Homo sapiens: one gene and its partner. The protein of the gene in region 2 interacts with the protein of the main gene of each other region in a pairwise test. Each region holds a gene or a part of one and is shown on either strand. Other genes may lie near its edges.

Region 1 (3,500 bases), on a different chromosome or scaffold from region 2:
GACTTCAGTGAAGCCTGACATTTCATAGGAGCTTAATATTTCAGAGAAAGAGCATAACTGAGAGGCAAATTATTTCCTGCTCTTATCCCTCAATCTCAAGGAAATGGCTTTCTCTCATCCCACAGTAGTTATTGTCAGAACCACTAAATCCCCACAAGGACCAAAACTAATGTCAAAGCCGCAAAACCCAAATCCTTCACAAATGAGAAAAGCAAGCCTCAGCCAGGGCCGCACAGATTCTTGGAGTGCATACTGAGTGAGCAGCAGTCGAAGCCCCAGCTTTCCCTGTGGGACGCGGGTGGAGCCAATTCCTCTCCAAGATCCTGCTGTCATGAAGAACTTGGCCGGCTTCGTTTCTCTGCTGTTGTGTGGCCCCCTGGTGGGGATGTGGAGAACTGGATGACCCTGCGCAGCTTAGCTGGTCCCGCTCCTTATTACCCAGCATGGGAAGCCGGCCACCATGTCTTTGCCCTGGAACTTGGTATTCTCCAGTTGTTGGCAGGACCAGATATCATCAAGTAGATTTAGTGTCTTCCTCCATTTGAAGTGGTCAAGGGAGATTCATTCATGTGCATTTATTCATTTAACAAGTACTGAAAACCTGCATGATATGCTGAGTAAGGATACAGTGTAAGCGAGAGACAAAAACCTTGTTTCATGGGGCTTACACCAAAGAAAGGCAATGCAGTATAAAAGAAAAAGTACTTAAAACCGAAATGCTCAATTTCTAGTTCTATCTTGGGCCACTAATTCTCTGTGTGACTTGACCAAGTTCCTTAAATTCTCAAATTCCCTAATTTCTTCTAGTTGCAACTTCTTCATTATTCTAGTTTGTACAGTAGATGATTCTCCCTCATTGTAAATACAAAAGAGGCCAGGCATGGTGGTTCACACCTGTAGTCCCAGCTACTCAGGAAGCTGAGGTGGGAGCATCACTTGAGCCCAGGAGGTGGAGGCTGTGGTGAGCTATGATCATGCCACTTAACTCTAGCCTGGGCAACAGAGAAAGACCCTGTCTCAAAAAAAAAAAAAAGTACCAGAGAGAGAAAAAAAAGCCATTCCCTCCTATAGGTAGGGTTGTTTTGTTTTGTCTCTTGGGATATCTTAGAATAACAGTCTGTATACTTTAAACCAGTATGTCTCAACTAAGGGTGATTTTGTCTCCCAGGGTACATTTGGCAATGTCTGAGGTCATTTTCAATTGTTACAGCTTGGAGAGTGCTGCTGACGTCTTGTGGGTAGAGGCCAGGGATGCTGCGAAACACCCCATCATGCACAGGACAGCCACCCCCCCCAAAAAATAATTATTCAACCCAAAATGCTGTTGAGAGAAACCCTGCATTAAACTTTGAAAATATCCATCTTTTCCCCTCATTTCTCCATCAATCTCACCCAGAAGCTAAGACACGTGATTCCAAAATGAAGGGAATAGAGCTTTGGGAGTCACGCAGCTATAAAACATGCTTTGTATTTCTACACAAATTATTTCATCACTGTAGGTCATAGTGCCCTCTTCTGAAAGGTGGGGCTGGTGACCACCAACTGGAATGTTGTGAGAAGGACTTAACTAAAAGGACTGCCCTCAGCTGACCCGCAGCTCCTAGAGGAAAGCCGTATGGTGGCTATCTCTTGAACAGTGGCTTGATTCGGAATCTCTTGCCATCCCCTTACCCCCTTATTCTACTGCTGTGAAGGAGAGAAACGTCTTTTGTCTTCTTTGTTATGTGGGAAGCAGAATTTCTCAGGGTACCTTTCTATGCCTTTCCTTAAGTCTTCACCATTGCTATCATCACCACCTTTTAATTACTGACCTTTTTCTTCCTTTTTCCAGAAGTGCATGTGGAACCTCATAAGAAGCAGCTACATGTGACCCTGGCTTACCACTTCCAAGCCAGCCACCTACCCACCCTAGAGAAACTGGCCCAGAACATTGACGTCAAGCTAGGGTGTGACTGGGTGGCTACCATATTTTCTCGGGATATCCGATTTGCTAACCATGAGGTAATGTCTCACTGTGGTTCCAGAAGCTACCAGGTGCAGGGATGCAATCAGAATCAGCAGCTCGCTGCTGCAGGGAGATGGGTACCTACAGGGGAAAAATGGAGCAAGCACCTAACAGAGAGTCCGTTGGCTCAGGATTGTGTCCAGCCTCTGCTTGCCTCACTGGGAGGCTTCCAGCTTGCCTCCCTCCTCTCTGGGTCACAAGTGGTTCATCTGGGTAACATCCCCCTAGTTCTGTCTCCCCTGCCAATCCAACTCCAGCAAAAAAGAAATGAAATGGGAGAGAATAAATAAAAAATATATTGGAAAATTTTTAATATTATATAAATTTATGGTGTTAATGGAAGACATCATTTTGACCTTAGGTGAGTTGAAGAACATATAAATACCAAAGAAAACAAAACAAAAAACAAAAACACTTGCAAAGACATAATCAACAGATATTTGCTGTGTATCTGTATCATGCAAAGTACCATGGAGCATACTGGAATTTTTAAATGTTGTCCTGTCCTCAAGGAGCTTTGAGAACAGACACACATGAAAAGAAAACTCAAGTCACCTCTTGTGAGAGTTTCTGCACATCCCAGTGGGAGGCCTGAGTGAGAAAACTGAATTCCATCACAAGAAGAAAGATTGGTACACCCCTAGCACCCTTCCTTTGAGGGAATCAACATTGCCTTCTAGACAAGTATGTGACATCTTGGAAGCATAATATTGCCTTTTTTTTTTTTTTTTAAATGGAGTTTCATTCCTTGTTGCCCAGGCTGGAGTGCAATGGCACGATCTTGGCTCACTGCAACCCCTGCCCCTGGGGTTCAAGCGATTCTCCTGCCTCAGCCTCCCTAGTAGCTGGGATTACAGGCACCCGCCACCACACTGGGCTAATTTTTTGTATTTTTAGTAGTGCCGGGGTTTCACTGTGTTGGCCAGACTGGTCTTGATCTCAGGTGATCTGCACGCCTCGGTGTCTCAAAGTGCTGGGATTACAAGCGTGAGCCGCAGCACCTGGCCAATAGTGTCTTTTTCTATCCTGAAGGAGAAGCTGAGACACAAAAAACATTAGTGTCTTAGTAATTTAGGGCTAGAGATGAAGCAAGAGCCCATGTATTTTGACCAATAAAGAAGGGCAACCTGTCTGAAACAAAACTACATCATAGCCAGGCATGGTGGCTGTCACCTATGATCCCAGCACTTTGGGAGGCTGAGGCAGGAGTATTGCTTGAGACCAGGAGTTCCAAACCAGCCTGGGCAGCATAGTGAGACTGTATCTCTACCCACCCACAAAAGACCTCATCGTTTGTTAAAAATGTGCCTTCCAACTTAACTACATTTATTAAGCAATACTTATATTTGTTTCCCAATTTTTCAAACAGCCAAAGAACTGGTATTTTTGTTAGTTTACATAGCCTTTTAACATCTCTTTTAGACTTCTTTAAAAAACAAAACATGAAAAACAGTTAGAACCCCAGGGCTGGGAGCAGGCAAGCTCATTGTTTTGG
Region 2 (3,500 bases):
ACACATAAACTGATTATAAAAAGTTAAAGTGATCTCTCAATGTTCTCCTTTGTTTTTCATTGTGTTTAGTGCGATTATTATAAACCTTAAATAACAAGTGGCCCAAACAAAGCACTATTAGTGATGCTGGAACTGCTCCCCAAGAAGCAGGGAAAGTTATGACATCACAAGAAAAAGCTGAATTGCTTGATATGTACTGTAGATTGAGGTCTGCAGCTGTGGTTGTCCACCACTCCAGACAGATGATTCTCCTTGTAAACAGATGATGTAAACTTACAGTATCAACAAATACAGTATTGTAAATGTATTTTCTCTTCCTATAATTTTCTTAATAACATTCTCTTTCCTGTAGTTTATTTATCATAAGAATACAGCACATAATACATATGTAAAATACGTGATAATCCACAGTTTACATTATTGGCAAGGCTTCCAGTCAACAGTAGGCTTATTTGTAAGTTTTCTTGGAGTCGAAAGTTATATGTGGATTTTCCAGTGCTCGGGGAACTGGCGCCCCAATCCCCGTGTTGTTCAAGGCTCAACTGTATGCTTGGGAGTTCAAGTACAGTATTGGGTAACACAGAAAGGGGGGGTAAGAGGGAAAAAGGCATTTTTATGATCTTCAGGTAAAGACAGCAAGAGAATTAGCCACTACAGACATAAAAGAGTTGGAAGCCATGAGAATACAGGAAAACAATCAAAACCATGGGAGTAGGTAAGGACCCACAAGAGAGTAGGCAGAACACAGAGAGAGACCATGAGGTTTCTGTAGGACACGTCTGCCAAACTCAAACAGTAATTTATAAGAAAGTCTTTATATCTTGGCTCTCCTAAGCTAATGAAGAGGAGAACTTGGAGGAAGGCACTTCAACTGAACACCATGACAAGTTGGACATAGTATCATTACCTGGACACAGTATCATTACCTGGTTGTCAAGCAGGGGCTGTAGCATGGCACTTGCTGAGCCTCCAGCCTTGAAGGAGTCTCTCTGGTAAGACCCTACTGGATCAAAGCTGTATACAGCCCCCTTTCCTTAAAGAAGAAAACAGTATTCATAAGGATGGTATCCAATCACAATCCCAAATCATCGCAAAAATAAATCAGGTCAAAACGTGACACAAAACGGACTATCACCTTGGCTAAAACTTCAGGGAACAGTTGGAACACAGCCACTGTTGCACTGGTGACAGCTGCAGCACACACACTGTTGCACATGTGACAGCCAGAACCCAGTCACCATTGCACAGGTGCCACCCAGCAGACAGCCCCAATCCCCGTGTTGGTGTGTTGTTCAAGGGTAAACTGTAGGCTTGGGAGTTAAAATACAATATTGAGTAACACAGAAAGGGTGGGTAAGAGGGAGAAAGGCATTTTTATGATCTTCAGGTAAAGATGACAAGAGAATTAACCACTGCAGATGTAAAACAGTTGGAAGCCATGAGAATACACAAAAATAATCCAAGCCATGGTAGTAGGTAAGGACCCGTAAGAGAGTAGGGAGAACACAGAGAGAGATGGTGAGGTTTCTGTAGGACACATCAGCCAAACTCAAACAGTCATTTGTAAGAAAGTCTTTATTTCTTGGCTCTCCTAAGCTAACGAAGAGGAGAACTTGAAGGAAAGCACGACTTATGTATATAGACAGGTCCAAGGGACACATCCGCAAGACACAGTAAAACGAAGAGAATTCTGTAACCTGTAAAATACGATACTGCTTTTGTTTAAAAGAATAAGAAAACTATTTGTACAAGCACAAAAAAGTCTGGAAAGATAAGTAACTGTGGCTGGTCATCTTTGAGCTCTGAATTAGAGGCAAGAAAAGAAGGGAATTAATTCATGTGCTTCTATCTTATTTGAGTTTGTTACAAAGAACACAGGTGATTCTACAATCGTTAAAAAGGCCTGTTAAAAACAACCGTGTTCTGGGTATGAGAAATCACGAGTCATTTACAAGGTATGATTTTTTAAAAACATAACTGATTTAGAAAACACATTATATACCAGAACTCAGTACCCTGGGAGATGTGATATAGGGACAATCTCCTTACTAACCATGTACAACTGCCACTGTTAGCTTTGTATGTTTTCTACTATAGAACTGCGTAAACTTGGCCAGGCGCGGTGGCTCACGCCTGTAATCCCAGCACTCTGGGAGGCTGAGGTGGGCCGATCACGAGGTCAGGAGTTCGAGATCAGCCTGGCCAACACAGTGAAACCCCATCTCTACTAAAAATACAAAAATTAGCTGAGCATGGTGGCACGTGCCTCTATTCCCAACTACTTGGGAGGCTGAGGCAGGAGAATCGCTTGAACCCAGGAGGCGGAGGTTGTGGTGAGCCGAGATCATGCCACTGCACTCCAGCCTGGGCAACAGAGCGAGACTTGGTCTCAAAAAAAGAAAAAGGATTGTGTAAACTGAATTCTCTGGTGGAGAAGGCACCATCTGAGGTCACCTAAGAAACTGGGAAGTATTTTTGCTGGAAGCAAGCTTGGGACAAGACATGAGATCACAGCAGGCAATCCACTAACCTCAATATACAAAAAAAGAAAGAGATGTAAGGTGTAAAGGCAGAAAAATGATTGTATCTCTCATGAGGATGACAGGCCACAAGTAAACTGAGGCCCAAAAGCTTTACCCAAGGATGGAACCAATCTCAGAAAACCACACACAACAAATTTAAAAAAATAAACCAAAGAAAGGGTGGGCTATGTCCAAGAACACAGCTTTAAAGACCCCCTAGAAGAAGCAAGAGAGACACTAGTAAAATCAGTATAAAACAGCAAAAATCAATAAATAAAAACAAAAATAAATGTAGAATGGCATGAATCTTGATTACAAAGTGCTTTTCCTCATCAAAGTAAAATCCAAAAAGCACAATCATTTCAATGTAAAAAATAAAATCAGACAAGTCTTAAAAGAAATACAGCTAAGCTTTGGATGGGAGAAGTTTTTCTAACAAGGCAAGAAACTGAATGTCATAAAGAAATGATTGACAGATTAGACTGTATGAAACACAGCAATTTCTGTGTAGCAAAAGGCACCACCCAAAAGAGACAAATAACACTCTTGGGAGTATCTATAATATCACAGACATTTGACACAGTCGAATGTAGTTCTTGAAAATCAGTAAGAAGAAAACTAACCTGCAAATAAGGAAATGGGCAACAGTTAATATATGAATCAGTCTCCAAAGAGGAAATTTATAAAGTCAATAAACATATGAAAACATGCCCAAGAATATATATAAATGAAAATAATAAACTGTTCAATAGGCAAAAAGATGTTTCAAAATGTGTTAATTCTAATACTGGGAAGGTTATATAAAATCGGGTACTCAGGGTACTGGCGTATCCTTCAGAAAGAGTATACTCAACAAAATACAAAAAAAAATTTATCTGACCCAATACTTCAACTACTCGAAGTTTATTCTAGCAAGACAAGCATAATTGGGGAAGTACACAAAAATGTATGTACAAGGATGTTCATCATAGTGTTTAT

Evidence for each region. The genes of interacting proteins can lie anywhere in the genome.
Region 1: the proteins of PSMB1 (region 2) and UBASH3B interact in binary tests that used the Homo sapiens proteins (3 or more experiments, as listed by UniProt).

The regions. Positions count from the first base shown.
Region 1 is NC_000011.10:122,781,222-122,784,721, forward strand, and holds part of UBASH3B (ubiquitin-associated and SH3 domain-containing protein B), read left to right. Parts: intron 1-1,831; coding exon 1,832-2,001; intron 2,002-3,500. UniProt on the Homo sapiens protein: Interferes with CBL-mediated down-regulation and degradation of receptor-type tyrosine kinases. Promotes accumulation of activated target receptors, such as T-cell receptors and EGFR, on the cell surface.
Region 2 is NC_000006.12:170,536,308-170,539,807, forward strand, and holds part of PSMB1 (proteasome subunit beta type-1), read right to left. Parts: intron 1,034-3,500; coding exon 927-1,033; intron 1-926. UniProt on the Homo sapiens protein: Non-catalytic component of the 20S core proteasome complex involved in the proteolytic degradation of most intracellular proteins. This complex plays numerous essential roles within the cell by associating with different regulatory particles.